6 separate regions of the Homo sapiens genome follow, and all the other regions are linked to region 4. The links come from fine-mapping of genetic effects on gene expression. A gene starts in region 4. Each other region holds a variant in brackets. All regions are shown on one strand. Distances are between the middles of the regions.

Region 1 (4,104 bases), 69 kb before region 4:
AGGTTGCTTTTGGATTTTAACATAAGTCTTTATCACAGTCTACCTGCAAGTAATAGTGTATCATTTCACATGTTATATAAGAACTTTAGGCTGGGTGTGGTGGCTCATGCCTGTAATCCCAGCACTTTGGGAGGCTGCGGTGGGCGTATCACTTGAGGTCAGGAGTTTGAGACCAGTCTGGCCAACAAAGTGAAACCCCGTCTCTAGTAAAAATACAAAAATTAGCCAGTCATTGTGGTGGGCACCTGTAATCCCAGATACTCAGGAGGCTGACGCATGAGAATTGCTTGAACCTGGGAGGCGGAGGTTGCAGTGAGCCAAGATAGTGCCACTGCACTCCAGCCTGGGTGACGGAGTGAGACTCTGTCTCAATTAAAAAAAAAAAAAAGAACTTCACAGCAGCATACTTCCATTTCTTCCCTTCCAGCCTTTGTGCTATTACTGTCATACTTTTTATTTCTACATATGTTACAAACTTTTTATTTGTACATCTTGTAAACCTTAAATACATTGTTATTACTTTTGCATAAGCAGGCAATTATCTTTTAAAGATATTTAAATAATAAAAAAGCCATTTCTATTTATCCATGTAATTACCACTTCTAGTTCTTTCACTGTCACTTTCAACATCACAAAGTCCTGCAGCTTCTGCAAGGTTTGCAATTTCCCTTTGAACTGTATTGTTGGATATCTGCCCCAAAAGCATATGGGCAGAGTGGGCAGGAATAGATACAGAAGCTAACAGGGAGGGGTGTTTGAGTGAAAGCTAATTTTATAAATGGTCAATTTATCAGTTACTACAGTTATATCATGGCTACTTTTATAATCTCAAAACTGCAAGGACTTGAATAGTGAATAACTGAATTACAAGAATGCTCTATAATAGTGTGGCTGATTATCATCAGCTACATTTAGCCAAAAAGGAATCAATGCAATAATACATTCAACAGGTAGTTACAGAGCTCCCTGTTTTGTACCAAGGCACTATTCTAGGGACTGGGGATATCACAGTGAATAAGACAAAATAAAACAAAAAAAGTCCCTGACTGATCGAGCCAACATTTTAGTGACATATAAGAATTGAAAGGATACCTGTTTTCATAAAACACACACTGGAGAGAAACAAATATTTAATAACTAAAATATAAAACACAATGATCACAGAGAGATATACACAAAGCACAATGGAACAATGAATAAGCTTAACTTTTGGTCATGCTGTCACACTATTTTAAGACCCCAGAAAAGGAGCAGCAAACTTTTCTAGATGTTTTAACTTGAACCAAGTCTGCATTTATTGCATAACTACTAAGGAAGAAGTAGTTAATGCCTGTCAGGGTCAAGGAAATTCACTTCTCAAATAGGTATTTTTTTTTAAATCTGATATAAATTCATTTGAAAGGTCAAGTGTTATCATACTGCGGACCTAGCAATGAAATGGATTTGGCTCCTGACACTGTGAACTTGTGAAATGGCAAGACTGTGTCCTTTTCCCTCTCTATGCCCTATGGTAAGGAATTCACAGTGCTGGATGTGGCTGTACATCAATAAAGGTTTGCTTAATGCTTGTCATATGTTTCAGCAATGGAACATTTGGTTGTAAGAAACAGACACCCACTGAAACTGGCTTAAACATAAAAAGGAAACTGACTGGAAAGGAATGAGGCTACTTCATGGAGCCCAAGGGCAGGAAGTACAGCTGGAGGTGATAAGGGATCAGAACCAGGAACCAGGAAGACATGCAGAACCAAGGTAGTGTATGTAACTTGTGTGCACCACAGATCTTATCTCTGCTTCTCTCTGCAATTCTATTTCATTCTTCTTTTCGGAAACCAGCTTTCTCTCATCCCTGGGTACATGGAGAAAGGTGGCTGTCCCCATTCCAGGAGGTCTTCTACTCCAAGAATGCAACAAAGTTTGAGTCCCAACCAGCCCATCCCAGTCCATGAATCAGCTTCCCCCAAGAACTGGGGCCCCATCCCTCATCCAATTAGCTGAGGCCAAAAGACTAACTCAAATACTATGAACATGCCCACCTGGAGAGGGCCTGGGGAGGGACCTCAGGGCAAGGAGACAACCCCCTGCCCAAAGATCTCTACGACTTCTCTCCTGCACAGTAGGCCAAGGTAAAACAAGAGAAAAAGTCTCAGCAAACACAAAGGGAGGTTCTACTTGGTTTCTTGGCAGTGGCATAAGAAGCAAGTGTTTTTTTTTTTTTTTTTTTGCCATTCCCTGCACCAGGCATCATCCTGAAGGCCAGAGTTTATAGCCCCC[A/G]TTTTGCCCCACACTAGAGAAACAGAAAGAGCAGGTGTTTTTCTTCCTTCCTGACCAAACCTCAATAGCTGGATAAAAGATGATTAATTCTGAGTAGTGCTGGGATTGCAACAATACTGTTTCACTCATAACAAACAGGAAAAGGATGCAGACAAAAGAAGAAACTGGGTCTCTTGAAACATCCAGAAGACAAGTGAGGACCACTGGCCCAATAAAGGAGAAGGGGCAGGGCCTGGCACTCCCACCTGCTCCCTGGGCTCAGGACCCTCCACCTTGACAAGCAGCAGCCAGGCTGAAGGAACTCTGAGCTCAGCCTAGACCAGTAACAGCCATTAACGATGACATGAGTAACGATGGCCAGTCTTTCGAGGAGACATAAAGCCTGCTCAGCAGCTGTGGATGGGCACCCATGCCAGTTTGCAGCAGGCCCCTCCCACCTCCCTAAGGAGGCCAGCCAGAGTGTGGTAATGAAACTGCACATAGTGGAAATGGGATCTAAATGAGTTTAAACTGATTTATGTTAGCTTTTGTAAAGATTACTCGATATCTGGAAAGTGCTACCACTGTGAAATAATGTCGACAATCCTTAAGACCTCTGTCTAATGGTACTTGCACAGAATATTTATATTCTTCGTCATGGGAACAAGGACCATAATGGATACCATTTTTGTTTTATTAGGGATGCATATTTAAATTAATCTGCTATTTGCCTAAACAATTAGCTGCTTCTGTTTGTGTGCACAAAGCCAAAATTGCAATTAAGCTTCCATCAAAAAGATAAGTCCCAACTAAAACTGTCCCGGTGGAGTCATAAGAGCTCAGGGCAGAACTTTCCAAAATTACTTTTTAGCATAATGGTAATTATGTTAATTGCCTGAAAGGTAAATAACTGCTGAACTGGTTTTGGAAAAAAAACACAATTGGTATACTCTTCCCTCCCCTTTGATCTTTTCCATGCACCACAAAATTTAAAACAGGTTAACAGTTTCGAAAGGTCATAGACTAGTCCCTTCTTCAACTACAGAGCTGGTCTTGTGGTCTTTAGTGGTTTCTTGATTAGAAATTATTTCAGCCGCGAGCTCCCATCCTCTTGAGCTTCCACAATAAACACCTGAAGCTTGGTGTCAACTTCATGATCGTTAAATAGACAGGATCAATTAACTGCGTTCAGAGATACTGAATGAAGTTGACTATTTATAATAAAGACAGCTGGCAATCTCAATTTCTACCATGTAAATAAACACTTGCCTATCAGAAATTAATCAGGAGTCAAAAGAAATTCTGCAACAAAGGAAAAGGCATTTTGACAAAAATTTTAAATATACCCATAGCACTGACTTAACACGTACCTCTTTGTTCATTAAGTCCACACATCACCACTCTGAAATGCAGGCCAGAGACATAAAACTAGCATAAAGTTGGACAGGACAAAAGTTTTTGCTCTTCATGGAAGAGGTGCCGGTGGGAGATTAGTATCAGTGTAGACAAGGGTCATAAAGAACAGCTAAACCACGGAGGGTCACGAAAAAGGAAAAAGGCTGAAGTTTCTTGTTACTGCAGCTACTGTGGCATGCCATCCTGCTTTCCCGCTGACCACAGCGCTACAGCTCTGTTGCCTAAGGCAGAAAATAAACAGAAAACATTCTGGAATCTGCATTTTAGATTGACAAGTAAAAGAATCTGAATAGGCTTATGGAGGAGGCGACTGGTTAGGGCATAAACAAAGCAGCGAGATCACCAAAATAGAAACTGAGTCAAGAGAAGAGGAAGTAAGATTGAATATATTTAGTAGCTCTCAAATTCAAAGCAGAAAGAACACCTGAAAAAGAA
Region 2 (4,104 bases), 56 kb after region 4:
CCTGAAGGTCTTTGCACTATAAGCGCCAAGGAGCCCGTGTGCGTGGCAGGGGCGGCTGGGAGGGTATCTGGAGAACCTTAGTGAGGCCTCTGGCCTAGCCAGAGAGGCAATAAGCTTGGGGACGTTCCGTTCTGGGTTCTGACGTTGTTGGTTCTGACGTCGTTGTGCTCTTTTGTAAGAGGAATTTCATACCTTGGAGACGCTTTGTACATATTTGTAATGACTTTATTAAAAAACTGATTGTGCACTTCTAGCCAAAGACATTTGTGTTTTCATTTCCTTTTGGAAGGCTGGCCCTCATAGACTCTGGGAGTACCCAGCTGCATAACAGGGACAGGATCCCTGCCCCTGGCTCCTGCCTGCCCCAATGTTCCCTTGGGCAGAAGGCCAGACACTTCCTTCTCTCCTCTAATTCCTAAGATCCACCGCCCCGCCCAAACCCTGAAGGGAAGGACTGGCCTAAAGAATGCCCTTGGGTTGGGCCACAGGTTTGGGAAACTTGCCCAACAGTTCGAGGTGAGTGCACACAACCATAATTTATGCATGGTATCCTGTGGACAAGCCAATGAGGCTGCAGATTAATGTCTCCAACTGCGGACAACTCGGGTTCTAGTCTCATCCTAAGAATGGGAGTTTGAGTACACATACCTTTTTTTTTGGAGACAGAGTTTCTCCCTTGTTGCCCAGGTTGGAGTGCAGTGGCACGATATTGGTTCACTGCAACCTCTGCTTCCTGGGTTCAAGCTGTTCTCCTGCCTCAGCCTCCTGAGTAGCTGGGATTACAAGCGTGTGTCACCACGTCTGGCTAACTTTTGTATTTTTAGTAAAGACGGGGTTTCACCATGTTGGCCAGACTGGTCTCGAACTCCTGACCTCGGGTGATCCACCTGCCTCGGCCTCCCAAAGTGTTGGGATTACAGGCGTGAGCCACCGCGCCTGGCCCAGGTTGTTTTTTTAGATACCAGACCTTCTCTTTTCCTTTGAACACCCATCCCTGCCCCACTTTCAGTCTACATGACTTAGAGGGGCCGACTCCATCCTCTCACTACCTCAAGAGCTCAACAGCTGGCCCAGGCCTGGCCAGTGCTCCACATCTCACCAGCTAAAGTAATTGGTTTGGGACAAACAAATGAGAGTCAGTCTTAGGACTTTTGGTGGAGCTTTCGGGATGCAGGGGTTGTTAAGCTGCTAGAACATAAACGCAGAACTGCTGCGGGCCATCTTACCACCACATGGGTCCAGCTGCCTGAAAATCAAACTGTCTCAGAGGAAAACAGAATTGAGGGATGGCCAAGACACAATTCTCTCTCTCTCTCTCTCTTTTTTTTTTTTTTTTTACAGAGATAGGGTCTCACTCTGTCACCCAGGCTGGAATGCAGTGGTGCTATCTCAGCTCACTGCAACCTCTGCCTCCAGGTTTAAGCGATTCCTGTGCTTCAGCCTCCTGAGTAGCTGGGATTACAGGTGTGGGCCACCACGCCTGGCTAGTTGTTGTGTGTGTGTGTGTGTGTGTGTGTGTGTGTGTGTGTGTGTGTGTGTGTGTGTGTGTTTAGTAGAGAGGGGATCAGGCTGGTCTCCAACTCCTGACCTCAAGTGATCTGCCTGCTTCAGCCTCCCAAAGTGCTGGGATTACAGGCGTGAGCCACTGCGCCTGACCGAGAGACACAATTCTATATCAACACTGGGAGTCTCTGAATCCAGCTGTGCCTGAAGCCCATACAGTTACGTAAACCAAATAAAGTCTTTATTTTACTTAAGCCATATTTGAATTGGTTTTCTTTTTTTTTTTCTTTTTTGAGACAGGGTCTAGCTCTGTTGCCCAGGCTGGAGTGCAGTGGTGTGATCACGGCTCACTGCAGCCTCCACCTCCTGGGCTCAAGCGATCCTCCCACCTCGGAGTAGCTGGGACCACAGGCGCATATCACCATGCCTGGCTAATTTTT[T/A]AATTTTTTTTGTAGAGATGGGGGTCTCGCTATGTTGCCCAGGCTGTCCTCAAATTCCTGGGCTCAAGCGATCCTCCCACTTTGGCCTTCCAAAATGCTGTGATTACAGGAGTGAGCCACCACGCCCAGCCTTGATGGCAACCCAAAAGTTTGGCCTGATGCGATGTTTTCATGGCTGGTGTCATAATGTTGCCCTGAGAGGCATGTACTGTCACCTCGTGCTATTAATCTACATTTAAATATCTATCATAATCTGGCGCCCTGGAAAACCCTTCTTGAATCAGCCTATACATTTTTGGTCCGCAAAACCTCCAGTTAGCCCCTGTAGTGGGCACTGTAAGTGCCCCACAGAGGCCCTTTCTGATCCCTTTTGCCAGATTCCTATCCTGCACTTTCGTGTGCTTTGCTGGTATCTGGGGCCTTCAGAGGCTTCCCCTTGGAGCCTCTTAGGGGAGAGTCTGAAGTGCAGGAAGTCCCCCCATCAGCCCAGTGCCAAGTATCAATTGGTGTGTATTTTGTGGGATGGGACAAACTCTGAGATGAAACTTATGCTCCTGAGCTCCCTGGGGGATCCGGCTAAGACTGAGAGTTCGCCAGAGCTTGGCTTCTTTCCCTTCCCTGTTCTATTTCACTCATGATTCCCTTACTGGTTTCTCGTGGGAGCACTGCTGTAATAAATCACATGCACCTGAACAGGATCTGCTTTAGGAGAAACCAACATAAGACAACCACCCACTCCGCGAAGGGCTTCTTCTCCTTTGATCTAAGACAGTTGCACTTGGCTTCAAGAGGTGAAAGGAAAATCAAGACCACAAACACAAGTTGCACCAACAGATGGTATTTATTGGCTGAAGGGTACTTTGGGAGACATTAAAACACCAAAGGCAGCTGTTTGTCCTACAGCAGAAGTCCTAAAAGATTCCAGGACCCACTTTATTTACCTCTCTTTCTTCTAATCCCGAGTCTCAGCAGCCCGGATGTCTTCCTAACACTCTGCACATCATTCTTCTCTTCCGAAGCTGATGCACCTATCATATCTGTGTCCAAAGCTTGCCTTTCTTATTCCCTCACATTTATTATTCTCAAGATATTTTACATGAAGAGGTCCATTTCTAAGGACTTCGTGGAACTTGAGTCAGTGAATCATAAAATAATAAGGGCAGGATACTGTGAACCTGATACTCGATTAACCCTACTTACAACAAATGAGTTGCAGAACCAAGATACATAAAAGAGAGTGGCATTGTTCTTTTCCAACGGGGACTCCTGGCTGCTTTCGCACTGGTATAGGGGAATTCATGTAGCCTGTGTTGGAAACACTCCTCATCAGACACTGTTTTCCCTAGGACAGAAGTTAAATCCCCCCACCGAGAAGAAAACCTCAGATGGGACGTTCCCCCAGAGGGTAGGGCATGCACTAATAAAATCCTAAACTAAACCATCCCATCTGCCCCTGTGTGTCCCCCACATGTTACATTCTTTACAGTGTTAACAGGCATGGCTCACTCTTTGCAGTGTTAGAGAATTTTGTTTTATTGTTTTGGTGGCATGGGCATAATTGGAGAAACCATTGGGGTATTCACTAGTAACCTACATTGTTAGTTTCCTTGGTTCCAGCAGGTAATACACTGGGTTCCGTCACCCTGGAGATGGCTACAGGGAGGCTGAGTGACTTCCCAAAGTAATAAAGAGTTTGGAATCAGAATTCCAGGTCTGACTCCCAGCAGACTGTTCTATTTCCTTACACACCTGCACTTTCATCAATCTTCTCCAGCTCCAATTTCTTGTGCCCCTTCAACAGCATCTGCAGGCAGGATGATCTTTCCGATAAAAACCAGTTGCAGAAGTTCCTGTTGCTTCCCTTTGGTTTTTCCTCAGGGTAGGGAGAACAGAGCAGCTGCATTCACATGGCCCCATTTCCCTCTGCTTCCCCTTCCCACTTGATTATTCAGGCAAGTGGGATTGTAACATCATGGCCATCGCCATAGTAACGGAGCTTGAAAGATGCTACACTGCCCTGGAACAGACGTCTTGCTGGGTACCAGGAGAGAGCCAGGGATGCCAAGCCAAGGGGAAAGTCCTGGTTTGGTGGCACACAGGGGCAAATGTCCTGAATCTACGGCGGGGCAGGGGGAAGGGGACATGTTAATACTGGCTGACA
Region 3 (4,104 bases), 58 kb before region 4:
TAGTCACCTCCGCCCAGGGCAGCCACAGTCCCGGACAATGGAGCATGTGTGCGTTCAGACAGTTGCACTGGGAGTGTTGCGGAGGTGGATAAGCCACTTTGCCGTGCTTGATGGCACCATATAAAGAGGACTGCTGGCTGTCCCGTCCAGGCTTCCTCATGCTAATATGCACCAGATCGCGTCTCTCCTCTCTCTACTGAGGGGGACAAATAAAAACTTCTTTGCACCTAAGAAGTGTGTAATCTCATTTCTCACCAAAGAGCGAGATTTCAAGACAAACTCGGTGACCAGGGAGCGGGTTTCGAAGCACACTGCCATTCCCTAATGCTGTGGCACGAGGCCAAAGGCAGGCAAGCACGGAGCAGATGGAGTCCTGGCAAGGTCTCCGCCGTCCCTGCATTAGCAGCATCTGCTCATTACTCAGAACCTTCGCCTGCTTTATCTAATGCTCCAGGAAAAGCATTTTGATTTGATTCATTTCGGTATGGTAACGTGCAACACAATTAGTGGTAAAATCAAACTGGAGGATGGCCAGTGCTGACAATCGGAAACAAGGCAGAAGAAATATGAGGCCAGAGGGTTGGAATTCAAAAAATCACAACTGTGGATCACCTTGCCAAATCTCAACACCCCAGGTGCATGTACAGTGTTCCTACGGAGCAAAGAGGCTAAAAGGGATGCAGGGATGACTCCCTTTCCCCAAAGCAGGTTCCATCTCCCCCTCTGGATACGATTCCCTCCACCGAGAATGTGCGTGTAGACCAGCGAGGGCGTTTCAATGGCTACAGAGCCTCACTTTGGCACAACCAGAGAACTGAAGTTCATTAACTCATTTTATTGTCTTATTCTTCTTTTCCGTGTCACAAATTTTAGACAGCAGAACCCACAAGGTAAAATTCCTTTTTTTGTCATGTTTCTGCCTCAGAAGTGCCAGTTAGCTGCTCCTGGAAAGAAGCAATATAAAAATGTGGGTTTATTTGAATCTGTCTTTGCCCAAAAGTAGCTATTCACGAAAATGTTAGTGTAAATATCATAGTGTCGATCTGTTAAACTGAAGGGGGACCAAAGGTAACGCCACCTGACGTCTGGGGAAAGAATAGAAGTTGTTGTTTATCACAGAAACAGTAACAACCCGAATCAGACCAATGAAACAAGCTCAGCATGAGAGGGGAGCAGGGAAACACAAGGGCTCTAAAAAAGGAAGAGCCCTTAATACCAAAATGAACTTGAAACGAATCAAAGATTTCAATGGAAACACTGCAGCCTTGGAAGCACTTATAGATTTTACCCAGGCGTTGAGTAATCATCTTCCCAACCATGACGTGAAACCCCAAAGGACAAGACTGACAAGCTTGATGTAAATTTAAGCTGCCAGACAGACCAACTGAAACAGAGCACAAAGTTCAGAAACAGACCCAGATACAAAGTGAATTTCATAGCTAAAAGCTTATAAAGGCAGCACCTCAAACCAGTTAGGTAGAAATGGGCTCTCCGAGAAGAGATGCTGGAAAAAAGATGTACTTGGAACCATACTGCATGCTAATCCAAGACGAACTTGTCAAGATAAAAATATAAAAAATAAGCCATAACAGTAACAGAAGAAAAAGAAAGAACTACAAGTAGCAGGTACACATTTTTTTTTTAATTTAACCTTTCTCACATTAAGAGAAATGTAAATTAAAACTACACTTGGTGACCATTTCTTCTCAAACTGATGAATACCCAAAAGCTGGAAACATACTTTGTTGGCAAAACTGTGAGGAAGCGGGCACACTCTCATG[G/A]CTTGCTGGTAAGAGCATAAAATAGTAAAACCCCACTTGCATTTACCCTGTAACCCAGAAAACAATCCTCCTTGCACTTGTGTGAAATGTCATCTTTACAAGGTTTTTCACTACAACACTGTAACGGCAAACACAACACAACTGTCCTTCAATAAACCAAAGTGCTTATACACAATGGAATTACCATTCAGGTGTGCAAACGGGGTACTCTCTCTACACAGACATGCACTCCCTTTTAAGATATGCTATTTAGAGAAAAAAGCCAAGGTGTGGAATCATGTAAAGTAAATAGTATGCTATCTTTTGTTTTTTAAAAAGGGGGCAATAAGAATATACACACTCATATTTTCTTGTACTTGTAATACTAAAATACAAGGATATACAAGAAAGTAAAAAATATGGTTACTTCAGAATGGAGCAGACAAAAGTGGGTGGCAGCAAGATTTCTCAATATATAACTTTATATTATTTTGATCTTTGAACCCTAAAAATGTAGTAATCAAAAACATTAAATTACAAAATAACCCCACTCACTTTTAGATTAAAAAATTAACATTGTTCACACATACCAAGTACCTTCTAGAAAACAAGTCCATTAAAGAATAAATGACAAGCCAGGCGCGGTGGCTCAAGCCTGTAATCCCAGCACTTTGTGGGGGCCAAGACAGGCAGATCACTTGAGGTCAGGAGTTCGAGACCAGCCTGACCAACATGGTGAAAGCCCAGCTCTACTAAAAATATAAAAAATTAGCTGGGCGTGGTGGCAGGCGCCTGTAATCCCAGCTACTCAGGAGGCTGAGGCAGGAGAATCGCCTGACCCCAGGAGACGGAGGTTGTAGTGAGTCGAGATCGCACCACTGCACTCCAGTCTGGATGACAAAGCCAGACTCTATCTCAAAACAAACAAAAAAGAATAAGTGACTTACGGAAAAAATATCGGAAACACATATGGCAAGGATTATTTCCCAAGCTTTCTTTTCAACCAGAAAAGATGACAACCCAAAAGAAAAATGAAGAAAGACAGGAACAAACAATTTGCAGAGAAAGAAATAGAAACAGCTAACAACACACAAAGAAAAGATGTCCACATGTAATTAAAGAAAGGCAAACAAAGACAATAAAATGCCATTTTTACCTGTCAGTCACTCTCACATACTTTTGGTGACACTATAAACTGGTGAAACCTTTTTGGAGGGCAATTTGGCAATAGTTATCAAAGCCTAAAGCAGCCAAAGCCTGCAGCCATAGCCTCCAACCTAGCAATCACTAGCACCTCACCCCAGGGCCACCCTTGGACAAGTCCATCCTGGCATTTGTTCAAGTATATTGCTTGCAGCACTGTTTTCAATAACAAAAATGAACAACTCAAATGTGTATCAATGAGGACCCTAATAAATAAATGATGGTACAGCCACATAATGCAGTACTACACAGGCATTAAAAAGAATAAGGTTTACCCTGTAAGTGTGAACACGGAAGATCACCAAGATGTGCCATTAGGTTATTAAAAAAAAAAAAAAAGGTGCAGAGAAGTATACAGAGCAGGACCCCCCACGAGTAAAATGCGAGAGGGCCTGGAAGTGGGACAGGGAGGAATACCTCGACTTCTTTTTGCATACTTTTTCTTTGTCATTTTATATACATTTTTGCTCTGTTTGAATTCTAACTATGACTTTAAAAAAAAAAAGAATTTAAAATACATTTTGGCAATCACTTGCGAAGCATTTTACCAAAGAAAGCAGATTCTTAGCCTGGCCAACATGGTGAAACCCCGTCTCTAGTAAAAATACAAAAATTAGTTGGTTGTTGTGGTGGGCACTCATAATCCCAGCTACTCGGGAGGCTGAGGCAGGAAGGAGAATCACTTGAACCCGGGAGGCAGAGGTTGCAGTGAGCCGAGATGGTGCCACTGCACTCCAGCCTGGGTGGCACAGCAAAACCCTGTCTCAAAAAAAAAAAGTAGATTCTTTATCATGCCTACATTGTTTCCCAACATTTCTGTGCAACAACAGGGGATGAGGGCAATGAAGACAATTCTCACAATATAAAACCAGCAGCAGCACCCCTGCACATCACCTCAAGCTGTATTTTCAAGCTCACGAGATGTGAGACATGGGCTGCAAATCAATTGGGCGCACATTTCTACAAGAGTCTTTATGTTCAGGATTCCACAAACAGCACGACCACCGCAGCACGGCCCTGGAGACACAATCACAGTTCTGGATTCACTGCTGACTTCAACCTACCTGGCTTCTTTGCACCTCTGTTTCCCCATCTGTAGAAGAATATGTGTGTGCATGTTCGTGTGTGTGAATGGTAGGGA
Region 4 (4,000 bases):
TGGGCGCCTGTTAGTCCCAGCTACTGGGGAGGCTGAGGCAGGAGAATGGCGTGAACCTAGGAGGCGGAACTTGCAGTGAGCCGAGATCGCGCCACTGCAACTCCAGCCTGGGCGACAGAGCGAGCGAGACTCCGTCTCAAAAAAAAAAAAAAAAAAAAAGAATGATTCTCAATTGGGAGGATCACTTGGGCCCAGGAGTTTGAGACCAGACTGGGCAATACAGGGAGACCTTGTCTCTACCAAAAAATTTAAAAAATTAGCTGAGTGTGGTGGCGCATGCGTGTAGTCCCAGCTACGCGGGATGCTGAGGGAAGAGGATGGCTTGAGCCAGGCAGTTTGAGGCTGCAGTGGGCCGGGAGAGCAACAGTACACTCTAGCCTGGGCAACAGAGCAAGACCCTGTCTCAGAAAAGAAAGAAAGAAAGAAAAAAAAAAAAAAACAGGAAAAAAAAAAGTGGGTTCCCAATTGTAAAGCTGTAGGGACTTCCTTTGGGCCTAATTTAAATCAAACCATTAGAACCTGGAGCCTTGTCCTCTTAACCTGGGAGCCACGGATGCATTTCAGGTGTTCTTGATTTTCCCAACTTTCTGAAGGGGATTATTTTTAACGGACACAGGGTCCCCAGCTTCCTCCAGATTCTCCAAGGTATCCACGCCCCACAAAAAGATAAGAAACTCTATCCTAATGAAAGTGCCCAGGAGATTCTTCCTCCTCTTCTTCCTTTTTTTCTGAGATAATTTTTTTGAATACGTGCACGGTTACAAAAATTAAATAGTGCAAACAGTATACAAAGGTAAAATTACTTCCTATCCATCATCTGGGTCCTCCTTTTCAAAGGCAACCTTTGTTCAAAGTTTAGGTAGCCTTCAAGAGCAGGATTTCTCAACCCCACACTTACTGATATTTTGTCCTGGATAATTTTTTTGTGCGTGGTGTCCTGTACACTGTAGGATGTTCAGGAGCATCTCTGGCCTCTACCCACTAGATGCCCAGTAACATGCACACATACACACCCCGATGAGGCACCCAAAAATGTCTGCAGACACTGCCACATCTGGGGGAACAAAATCGCCCTGGTTGGGAAGTGCTGCTTCCAGAAAGACCCCTATGCAAGCACAAACATTGGTGTTTGTGCGTCTACTCATTTTCTCGGGCAACTAGTGGCACACAGTTACTCTCCAAATCACTGCAGGGGTTTGTCCTGGGGGCGGGGGCCGGCGCAGGCATGGGCGGGGGGGAGGCGACGGCCACTCACCAGGTCGCGGATGAGCTGGTCCACCAGCTGCTCCCCGCCCCCGGCGCCCTCGCGGGCCAGAGGAGAACGTGAGCGGCTCGCTACGTCCTGCCCCTCGGCCCGAGTCGCCCGCGCCGCCGGGGGCCTCCCCGCGCCCTCCAGGAGACGCTGGGCCAGCGCCGGGTCCCCCGAGGCCTGTTCGCCGCGCCCGGAGCCCACCTCCGGCCGCCGAGCCCGCCTCTCGGCAGCCTCGGGCCGTCGCCGCTTCTTCGGCGCCTGGGCCTGCGCCAGCTCCTCCTGCCAGCGCCGACGGAACTCATCCAGGCTGTAGTCGTCCATATTCGCCGCTCCCGGCGCTCCACGTTCTCCTCGGTTCCACCGGGTGCCACGAGACAGTCCCGCCCAGGGAAGTGTCCGCCGCGGCCGGAAGCCGCTGCCGCCGCCGCTCTAGGGTTCCGGGTGGGCGTCCACGCCCCCGCCACGCCCCCGGCGCTGCCCCTGTACGCACGTGGTGGTCCGGCTTGTGGCTTGTGGCGCCCAAAGCAGAGGTTTACGCAGCTGCCCCTCAGCCCGTCAGCTCTGCTGCCTATCACTTTTGCTAAGCTCTGACTTTGCGCCAAGCATTGTTCCTTCATTCAACAAACATTCATTCAGCAACTACTATATGCCAGGCACCAAGAATTCAGCATTTAAATCTGTAAAACAAAACAAAAACTCTGACGTCTTGGAGCATGCGTTTAAGTAGGGAGACTTTAAACAAAGAAATATGAACATTTAAATCAGTGATAGGTATTAGGAAGAAAACAAAATAAGGTAAGGTAAGGGGAGTAAGGATTGATAGTGAAAGTCTGTTTAAGATGTTATTTAAATTAAAATCTAAAAGAGAATCAACAGGTGGATAAAGAAACTGATATATACATATGGTGGAATACTACTCAGCCATAAAAAAGGAATGAATTCATGGCATTCGTAGCAACCTGGATGGGATTGGAGACTATTATTCTAAGTGAAGTAACTCAGGAATGGAAAACCAAACATCGTATGTTCTCACATATAAGTGGGAGCTAAGCTACGAGGATGCAAAAGCATAAGAATGACTTATGGGACTTTGGAACAGGGGAGGGGGACGAGGGGAGGGTGGGAAGGTGGGGAGGGATAAAAGACTATAACTTGGGTTCAGTGTATACTGCTCGGGTGATGCGTGCACCAAAATCTCACAAATCACCACTAAAGAACTTACTCATGTAACCAAATACCACCTGTTCCCAATAACCTGTGGAAATAAAAATTTTTTTTTAAAAATCTGAAAGAGAAACCAGCCAAGGGAAGGTCAGATCTTAGGAGAGAGATTTCCAGAAGGAAATCCAAGGGCTTTAAGATGGGAAAGAAAATGACATACGATGGCGTTCCACTTAAAAATGTTTTCTTTGCACCTGATATTCCCTCAGCAGGGAACTTTTCCCCCCACCTTGACTTGGTTAACTCCTACACATCTTTCATATCTCAACTCACATTTCACTTAATCTTCCAACCTCCACTCAAGAAACATCAGGTATCCCTGTTACTCATTCTCACAGCATCCTGTACTTCTCATCATAATACATAACACAATTTGTAATTTTATTTTTATGTATATATATATATCCCTTCCCTTCTAGATTGGCAACTCTTAGCTTTGAGACTGGTGATTAATACATGCTCAATAAATGGTTTTTTGTTTGTTTGTTTGTTTGGTTTGTTTTGTTTTTGAGACGGAGTCTCGCTCTGTTGCCCAGGCTGGAGTGCAGTGGCGCGATCTCGGCTCGCTGGAAGCTCCGCCTCCCGGGTTCACGCCATTCTCCTGCCTCAGCCTCCTGAGTAGCTAGGACTACAGGTGCCCGCCACCACACCTGGCTAAGTTTTTGTATTTTTAGTAGAGATAGGGTTTCACCATGTTGGCCAGACTAGTCTTGAACTCCTGACCTCAAGTGATCCACCCACCTCAGCCTCCCAAAGTGCTGGGGTTACAGGTGTGAGCCACCACTCCAGGCTCAAAGATGCTCTTGCAATTAACTGTCCCTTATTCCTTGTCTAACTCTTCTTAGTCTCTCAGGCCTCTTCTCTAGAATCACTTCTGTAAATAAACTAGCTGCCTACAAACCCAGGGCTCAGGCTTGCTTACTGTGGGAAACCAGGCTTGGACAACCTTCACTGTAGAAAATTAGAGTATATGGTTGGGCGTATATTCACACCACTACACTCCAGCTTGGGCGACAGTGCGAGACTCTGTCTCAAAAAAACAAAAAAAAGAAAGAGCATCTCTGAGTTGGTCCTACTGTGGCAATTTAGGCTCATTCCATTAGCACCTTCTAAGGAGCCTTAGAACACAGCTCAGAATTGTCCTCCCAAGAGATAAGAGCCAGAAGAGGAAAGCATTTGTCCAGTGACTCTCATCCCCTACTAGAGAAAGGCTAAGCCAAGGAGCTTTAACAACCTCCCACTTCTAGATTGGGTATAAGTAAACGGATTATCATGGATGTTCCGTACCAAGGCAGCAGAGATGCTCTGGGGCAAAAAGCAGGAGGTACACTGTGCAGCTAACAGGAACGACTGTCAGGTTACACGTGCACAAAGCCAGTTGCTACAGCAGTGACTAAGGTAAAAGATGAGTGAAGTGATGCAAGATGGAACATAAGCATCCAATACAAGTAAGCATTCTCTTTTTTTTCCGTAAAGGTTTTATTATACACAGAAGGGGAAGAAGTCTCAGTTCTTCTTGGCAGCCAT
Region 5 (4,104 bases), 45 kb before region 4:
AGAAAATATTTTTAAATTCAGGGCAAATATATACGTATTCACATTAAAGCTACTATTCATATTTTGGCATGGTATACAGTCGATAAAAAGGTCCTTTTTTAAAAAAAAATTTTTTTTGAGACAGTCTCGCTGTCACCAAGCTGGAGTGCAGTGGCATGATCCTGGCTCACTGCAACCTCTACCTCCCGGGTTCAAGTGATCCTTGTGCCTCAGCCACCCGAGTAGCTGAGATTACAGGTGTGCACCACCATGCCTGGCTAATTTTTGTATTTTTGGTAGAGAAGGGGTTTTGCCATGTTGGCCAGGCTGGTCTCAAACTCCTGACCTCAAGTGACCCACCTGCCTTGACTTCCCAAAGTGCTAGGATTACAGGCATGCCACTGTGCCCGGCTAATAACAAGGTACATTTGTAATTACTGGAAAAAGCAGAGGACAACATAGCTAAAAGCAAGGTATTTCAAGTTACCTTAGATGACTTTGTTTATTTTTTGGAGATGGAGTCTCACTCTGTTGCCCAGGCTGGGGAGCAGTGGCATGACCTCGGCTCACTGCAACCTCCACCTCCTGGGTTCTAGCGATTCTTCTGCCTCAGCCTCCCGAGTAGTTGGGATTACAGGCACGTGTCACCATGCCCAGCTAATTTTTCTATTTTTAGTAGAGACAGGGTTTCACCATGTTAGCCAGGCTGGTCTCAAACTCCTGACCCTAAGTGATCCACCCACCTTGGCCTCCCAAAGTGCTGGGAGTACAGGCATGAGCCACTGTGCCTGCCCTGTTTAAAATTATATTTTCCAATACTTCTTAATTGTAAAACAATGATAAAATTCCACTGAAGGGCCAACAGGCAAACTGAACCAACCAAAGATTCAGACACCAATTTTTACATATATAAATTTGAAGCTCCAAATTTTGCTCTCTGTCTACAAAGAACTGCAAACCCTCTCACTCTGACGCCAGGGTGTATGAATGGGGCTCAGAAAAATAAAAACATATTTGAATCAGGCCATGTCTGGCAGCTGAAGCAGCAGCCAGAGATCACTTGGTTGCTAGAGAGGTATGGGCAGTTTTGTTTTGTATCTACTTGGGCACACTTGCCTCAAAAGGAATGAAGCAAAAATGGGACAACTGAGTGTTTTTAGGGTAAGAAGAGCGCTAATGGTTTGCAGCAAATGATACAGTTCTCCTTCCAACCACACTAGGCAGAAGAGAAGCATGGATACACAGCCCTGCTCCTTCCAGCAAAGGCAGGAACGGTATGCTAAAAAGGCGGAAACCAGGGGAGAAAATATTTAGGAGTAATGAAAAAAACCTCAACACAAACAGGTTGCTTGGTGTTTTTTTTAAAACCAAAAGAGAGAAAATGTCCTCTCATATGAATAGAAAAGTGTGTTTTCTTATGCCAACTAGAATGCTTTAGCCTTATGAATCTCAAGTAACAATGAGGAGAGAGTTTATTGCAAAACACCATCATACTCCTGGGCATCTGATAAAAGCTTCTGGTGAGCTAATGGCTTAATGGTTAGCAGAGCTGGCACAAGGCCTCCAAGGAGCTACTGGTTCTACCTGAGATGCACTCTTCACTAGGTGGCTCTCCTTCACTACTTATGGCAAACGACACCTAGCCCTGCACCTCAGGTTTTATACTGTCTTTTTTGAACTCATGATGTCATCTGATTGCAACACTTAACTTCCAGAGGGCAACTGGGGAGAAGGAAGACGAGAACAGTCTAAGCATCACAAAACAGAACAGGGATGTTTCCATATGCCCCTTTCTTCTACTCTTTCTCCTCAAGGATAAACATACAATTTTCAAAACATTCTAAAATTCTAAGAGCTGTTACCACAATAAATCAAAGAAACAAACAAAAGACATGTTTCCTGAGCACTTACTATCAACTAACTTTCTAGACAAACTCTGTGCTAAAACACAAGGAAAACACACACTAAACCTCGCTAGCATTTCAGGAGGTCCAGCAGATCACAGATACAAATGCAGACAGGCGCTGAACTTTGAGAGAAAGACAGGTGACTGATTCTGTAGAGACTGGTGACTTATGAACATAAATTTTTCTCAAGTTACAGAAATGAGAAATTTTCGCTGAAAAAGCAAAGTAAAAGTTGTGTCTGAATGTCTCAGTCGCAGTTGAAGGCACGTCCACTTATCTCTCCAACAAAGAAAACAACTGGTGCAGGTCTTTTCTGCGCTGCTGCATATCCTTGCTAAGTGGTCAAGTGACAGCAGAGAAAGACAAGAACGAGGGCCAGAGAAGGCGCTCACGGAGGTAATGGAAGTCCAGAGAGTGTGGAATCGCCGAAGGGGAGTTTTCCTTTCTTACACACTTGGCTCAAAGTTTCCTGGGTCCTGGGAAAGATGTTAGACTCTGAGGGCATACAGATGCTTAATACAGGGCCCCCCCCC[C/G]CCATTTCAAGAGGGGAAAGTCAACAGCACCAAATGTTGCCAAGAGGCTGGAGAGGACGAGCCAAGAAAAGGCTATTGGTTTGTTGACCAAAAGATCACGGGTGACCTCTGAGAGTGCAGCACAGTGGGGCTGGGATGGAGCCAGCTGGAGGGAGGTTAGACGGGGAGGAAGGAAGAGGGGCAGGAGGCACGGGCTCTCACTATGTACAGCACTAACAGGAAGATGGCAGGGATGGTTTGGAGACTTCAAGTCAAAAGGTTAGATTGCAAAGAAGCTGAGGGCTACAAAAGCACTTTTAAATAATTTATTAATCTGGAAAATAAAAATTCATTCCCCTAAATCCAGTAATTCTGCTTACAGGACTCTAGCCTAGGAAAACAATCAGGATTGCAAGACTAGGAGACGATAATGAGAGAACTTTAACTCTTTATTTTATATACTTATATAGAATTTCAAGTTTCTACAGTAGCATGTGTCTAATCATTTTAAAATAAAGATTTGTAATGCTAAAAAGGAGAAAAATTTGCAGACATCTATACATAAAATATTCATAACATACATATAACAAAACACAGGAAATGACCTTAATGTCCACTATTAGGGGAATAAATAGGGAAATTGGGGTATAATTATCCAAAGTGTTTTTGCAACAAGTCAAAGAAAGTAATGAAAAATATGCAACATGAAAAAAATTCATCAGTTTGGTGAGGGAAAAGGCCACAAATCTAACAAAGGCTACAGTCACACTATGAAAAAACATGCATAGAAAAACAGACTGAAAACCAAACCAGACACATGGGAGACCTTAATAAAGGTTGTGTTCCATGCTAGAATTTGAGTGGCTTTCTCTTCTCTACTTTCTAACACGGTTGCAAAACAACATGGTTTTTACCACTGCTTTTTCTTTTTTTTTTTTTTTTTTTTTTTGAGACAGAGTCGCCCTGTCGCCCAGGCTGGAATGCAATGGTGCGATCTCAGCTCACTGCAACCTCTGCCTCCCAGGTTCAAATAATTCTCCTGCCTCAGCCTCCCAAGTAGCTAGGATTACAGGTGCCCGCCACCACGCCCAGCTAATTTTTGTATTTTTAGTAGAGATGGGGTTTCACCATGTTGGCCAGGCTGGTCTTGAACTCCTGACCTCATGATCTGCCCGCCTAGGCCTCCCAAAGTGCTGGGATTACAGGCGTGAGCCACCATGCCCGGCTGGTTTTGTTTTTCTTGTTTTTTGTTTGTTTGTTTTGTTTTGTTTTTTTGTCTTTTTTTTTTGAGATGGAGTCTTGCTCTGTCGCCCAGGCTGGAGTGCAGTGGCGCGATCTTGGCTCACTGCAAGCTCCACCTCCTGGGTTCACGCCATTCTCCTGCCTCAGCCTCCTGAGTAGCTGGGACTACAGGCACTCGCCACCATGCCCGGATAATTTTTTTGTATTTTTTAGTGGAGACAGGGTTTCACCGTGTTAGCCAGGATGGTCTCGATCTCCTGACCTTGTGATCCGCCCGCCTCGGCCTCCCAAAGTGCTGGGATTACAGGCGTGAGCCACCGCGCCCAGCCGGCTGCTTTTGTTTTTAAATAGACACATGCCACAAAAGAAAAACCAAAATGATGCTATAATAGCCAAAGCTTCAGAGCAGCAAATGAGGGCTGGAAACGGCAGCCTCACCAGCCAGCCCTGCCTGTGGATGCTGC
Region 6 (4,104 bases), 210 kb before region 4:
AGGCTGGAGTGCAGTGGCGCGATCTTGGCTCACTGCAAACTCCGCCTCCCGGGTTCAAGCCATTCTCCTGTCTCAGCCTTTCGAGTAGCTGGGATTACAAGTGCCCACCACCATGCCTGGCAAGTTTTTATATTTTTAGTAGAGACGGGGTTTCACCATGTTAGCCAGGCTGGTCTCGAACTCCTGACCTCAAGTGATCCACCTGCCTTGGTCTCCCAAAGTGCCGGGATTATAGGCGTGAGCCACCGCGCCCAGCCTCCCCTGCCTTCTGAGCAGGATGCACCCCTCTGTCGATTGCATCACATTGGAGCTCCTCCTCTTACATTGTCTGGTAGGGGCCTGGCAAGGAAGTGTTAACACGAGAAATGGAGATCTCCTATTCCTGACTCCCTCCTGGAACCAGCACGTCACTCCAGGCCCCCAGAGGCATTGGCCCTCCTGTGAATTCAACCAAGCGTGGTGTCCCATAGCAAATATGGAAAACGCCTGGAAAAAGCCACCAGATGGTGCTTCTCCATGCCAAGTGAGTGGCTCCACAATGACTAGGGGTGGGTGGGTGGTGAGGGGGAGGAGAAGAAACATCAGGTTCAGCAGTTACCCTGCTGGAACACCTGCTCGGGGAGGACATCAGAAGAACCTCAACGTCCATCAGTGGGGTAAGGGGACATTTATGCACATAAACAACCAGCTCAAGTCACCAGGGAATCTGTGCCAAAGATGAAGTTTTGAGAAGTCCCCAAGGTGACCTGGAGGGAGACGTGAGCGACCGCAGCCCTGGCACATCTTGGAGAGGTCAGCTGGTCTTGGAGGGGGCCTGCCTTATCCAGGAAGCTGATGGGACTCACCCCAATGTGGCCAGAGAAAAAAATGGGAGAGGGTGCCTTTATAAAAGCTCACGTCCTTTTTTTTTTTTTTTTTTTTTTTTGAGACAGAGTCTCGCTGTGTCGCCCAGGCTGGAGTGCAGTGGTGCGATCTCAGCTCACTGCAGCCCCTGCCTCTCGGGTTCAGCTATTCTCATGCCCCAGCCTCCCGAATAGCTGGGATTACAAGCACAGGGTACCACACCCAGCTACATTTTGTATTTTTAGTAGAGACAGGGTCTCTATGTTGCCTAGGCTGGTCTCGAACTCCTGGCCTCAAGTGATCCACTTGTGTCTGCCTCCCAAAGTGCTGGGATTACAGGTGTGAGCCACTGCGGCTGGCCTAAAAGCTCATGTCCTTTAATTGTCATACTACTCTACAGGGTAGATGCTGTTACTATAAACCCATTTTATTGATGAAGAAACTGAGGCTCAGTGAGGGGGCACTGAGCTGCCCAAGGTCTCAAGATGTTGGAGGAGGATGGTGGAGGAGGGTGGCTCCCCCAGCAGTGTCCAGGGAGTGATTTTCCTGCTGGTCACAGGTTCCCACAGGTGAGAAGCCCCGCTAGTCTTGATTGTGCCTGATCCCTCCTCATGCTCTAGGGGGCAGCAGAGTTTTATAATTTACCGTGAGATTCCCAGTGGAATAGACTAGGGTTCAAGTCCTGCTTTGGCTACCAACAGGGCGGGTGAATGAGGCCAGTCATTTAACCTGAGGGCAGGAGTCTCTGTTTCCTGTGGATAAAATGGAGATAAAGGTCTCTCCTGGACAAGTGCTTCCTAAGGACATCAGTAGCAACAGTAAGATAGTGGCAGACACCCAGGCGGCTGCTGGCTTGTGCTGTTCTAAGCACTTGGTGTGTTTCAGTT[C/T]TTTTCTTCTTTGCTACAGCCCAGGGCTGTCGCAACTCTCATTGCCCTGGTTTTGTAGATGCAGTCAAAGAGGCAAGGAGAAGCAAAGCGACTTTCCCAAGCTCACACAGGAAGTGGCAGAGCCAGGATTTGAATCCAGGTCGTCCAGCTGCTCTGGAACTGCCTGTGAAACTGCTTGGCACTTAGCGCACAGCTGGGCCAGCAGCACCCATGGATGGAAGCGTCCGTTCCTGAGATCATAACATTTACAGGGCTCCCCGGGAGCGAGGTGTGCCTACCACTGAGGCCCTTGGAACATCTTGCATAAAAGAAAGAAGTTCTTAGCCAGCAGCCCTGCACACTACCAGTTTCTAAGTTATTTATAAAGAGCTTGTTGAAGTCGAGAGACTTCTAACAGGCGGAGGTGTGTTCTTGAGACTAAGAATAGTGGCTGAGGCCTGACAGGAGGCGCTTTCTGGTGACATCAGAGCATCCCAGCCTTGCTTCCAGCCAGCAGCAGCAGCAGCTTGGAGGGAGTGTGAGTTTTCTCCTGGCTCAGCCACAGCTGCCGGTTCACCCCGGTTCACTGAGGTGGCCCACCCTGGTTCCTCCAGAGAGGGCGGCACTCAGCCTGGACGCTGAGGCAGGCGTGGGACAGGGATGGGTGACCCCCAACGAGCAGGCTTTAGCTGGAGTCTAGAGGTCTCTAATCTGCCACTTCCACCTCCCACTATTTGCTGAAGGGTGGCCATCTGGCCTTAACAATAGGATGGGGACAAAGAGCAGAGGCCCACAGGGGAGGGGCTGCGAAGTCCCTGAGCGGCCCTTGGATTTAGATCCCTTTCCCAGCAGTGGGGGGCAGAGTATTTTGCCATCCTGCTCACCCCAACCTCACCATCACCTGGGGGTTTCTAACAGGTACTGACCCCAGAGTCCCCAACCCTTCCTGCGACACCAGAGGCTCCAGGGGAATGTTATGCACATCACAGTTTTAGAACTCTAGAACTCTTTGTTTTTTTTTTTTAGATGAAGTTTCACTCTTGACGCCCAGGCTGGAGTGCAGTGGTGCGATCTCGGCTCATTGCAACCTCCTCCTCCTGGGTTCAAGTGATTCCCCTGCCTCAGCCTACTGAGTAGCTGGGATTACAGGCATGTGCCACCACATCCAGCTAATTGTATTTTTAGCAGAGACTGGGTTTCACCATGTTGGCCAGGCTAGTCTCAAACTCCTGACCTCAGGTGATCCATGTGCCTCGGCCTCCCAAAGTGCTGGAATTACAGGCGTGAGCCACCGCGCCTGGCCTAGAACTCTTGTAATCTACAAGAAGGAGAATTTCAACCCAGAACTTGCCCAAAATCCCAACAGGTGACCACTGGCTTTTTTCTGGACTGGAAATAAATTATGGGGATAGAGGGCAAAGATTAAGTCAAGCCAAGGTTAAATCGTGGTCCCTACCAGGAGCTGTGAGCTTTTAGTGGAGATATTAGAGAGATGTGGGGTGGGGGGTGAGGGAAGAAGGAAAGGGTAACAGTTTAAATGGGTAACTTAAAACGCTGTTTCAAATTTGTATAGCCATTGTGGAAAACAGTGTGGAGGTTCCTCAAAAAATTAAAAATAGAACTATCATAGGATCCAGCAATTCCACTTCTGGGCATCTACCCAAAGGAAATGAAATCAGTTTCTTGAATGGATAGCTACACTTCCATGTTGATTGCAACATCATTCATAGTAGCCAAGATAAACAACCTAAGTGTCCATCGACAGATGAATGGATAAAGAAAATGTGAAACGCACACATAGGAATATTATTCAGCCTTCAAAAAGAGGGAGATCCTTGGCCAGGTACAGTGGTCATGCCTGTAATCCCAGCACTTTGGGAGGCTGAGGCAGGTGGATCACCTGTGGTCAGGAGTTTGAGACCAGCCTGGCCAACATGGCAAAACCCCATCTCTACTAAAAATACAAAAATTAGCTGGGCATAGTGGCGCATGCCTGTAGTCCCAGCTACTCGGAAGGCTGAGGCAGGAGAATTGCTTGAACCTGGGAGGCGGAGGTGGCAGTGAGCCGAGATTGTGCCACTGCAGCCTGGGGGGCAGAGCGAGACTCTGTCTCCAAAAAAAAAAAAAAAAAAAAAAAAAGAGGGAGATCCTGCCATTTTCAAAACTGTGGCTGAACCTGGAGGATATTTTTCTAACTGAAATCAGGCAGACATAGAAACACAAACACTGCATTACCTCACTTATGTGTGGAATCTAAGCAAGTCCAACTCATAGAAGCAGACAGTAGAATGTTGGTTACCAGGGGCTGGGGCAGGGGGAGAGGAGAGATATTGGTCAAAGGATACAAACCTTCAGCATAATATGAATAAGTGCTAGAGACCTAGTGATCACAGTA

Evidence for each region.
Region 1: its variant is fine-mapped to the expression of FBXW8 in aorta (GTEx, PIP 0.98). The same link has a PIP of 0.9 or more in fibroblasts.
Region 2: its variant is fine-mapped to the expression of FBXW8 in whole blood (INTERVAL, PIP above 0.99).
Region 3: its variant is fine-mapped to the expression of FBXW8 in lung (TOPMed, PIP above 0.99). The same link has a PIP of 0.9 or more in tibial artery.
Region 5: its variant is fine-mapped to the expression of FBXW8 in monocytes after R848 (Quach 2016, PIP 0.95).
Region 6: its variant is fine-mapped to the expression of FBXW8 in whole blood (INTERVAL, PIP 0.97).

The regions. Positions count from the first base shown.
Region 1 is chr12:116,977,898-116,982,001 of GRCh38, reverse strand. The region is part of intron 5 of FBXW8 (F-box and WD repeat domain containing 8); the gene reads right to left. LOC100506551 (a long non-coding RNA gene) reads left to right here. Exons shown (of 4, transcript NR_103809.1): 3 at 1,583-1,752; 4 at 2,413-4,104. Among named protein-coding and RNA genes, the nearest start is that of FBXW8, 69 kb to the right of the region's middle. The variant A/G (reference allele first, on the strand shown) is at 2,275.
Region 2 is chr12:116,852,293-116,856,396 of GRCh38, reverse strand. It overlaps RNFT2 (ring finger protein, transmembrane 2), which reads right to left. Exons shown (of 11, transcript NM_001382266.1): 11 at 2,766-4,104. It overlaps HRK (harakiri, BCL2 interacting protein), which reads left to right. Exons shown (of 2, transcript NM_003806.4): 2 at 1-253. Among named protein-coding and RNA genes, the nearest start is that of HRK, 27 kb to the left of the region's middle. The variant T/A (reference allele first, on the strand shown) is at 1,944.
Region 3 is chr12:116,966,358-116,970,461 of GRCh38, reverse strand. The region is part of intron 5 of FBXW8 (F-box and WD repeat domain containing 8); the gene reads right to left. Among named protein-coding and RNA genes, the nearest start is that of FBXW8, 57 kb to the right of the region's middle. The variant G/A (reference allele first, on the strand shown) is at 1,782.
Region 4 is chr12:116,908,611-116,912,610 of GRCh38, reverse strand. It overlaps FBXW8 (F-box and WD repeat domain containing 8), which reads right to left and starts at 1,661. Exons shown (of 11, transcript NM_153348.3): 1 at 1,256-1,661. The coding sequence starts at 1,573. It also overlaps the pseudogene RPL36P15. RefSeq lists silencers at 1,194-1,453, 1,614-1,833.
Region 5 is chr12:116,953,355-116,957,458 of GRCh38, reverse strand. All of the region lies in intron 4 of FBXW8 (F-box and WD repeat domain containing 8), which reads right to left. Among named protein-coding and RNA genes, the nearest start is that of FBXW8, 44 kb to the right of the region's middle. The variant C/G (reference allele first, on the strand shown) is at 2,420.
Region 6 is chr12:117,117,269-117,121,372 of GRCh38, reverse strand. The region is part of intron 2 of TESC-AS1 (TESC antisense RNA 1); the gene reads right to left. LOC105370010 (a long non-coding RNA gene) reads left to right here and starts at 336. Exons shown (of 4, transcript XR_945398.3): 1 at 336-523. RefSeq lists an enhancer at 2,286-2,880. The variant C/T (reference allele first, on the strand shown) is at 1,731.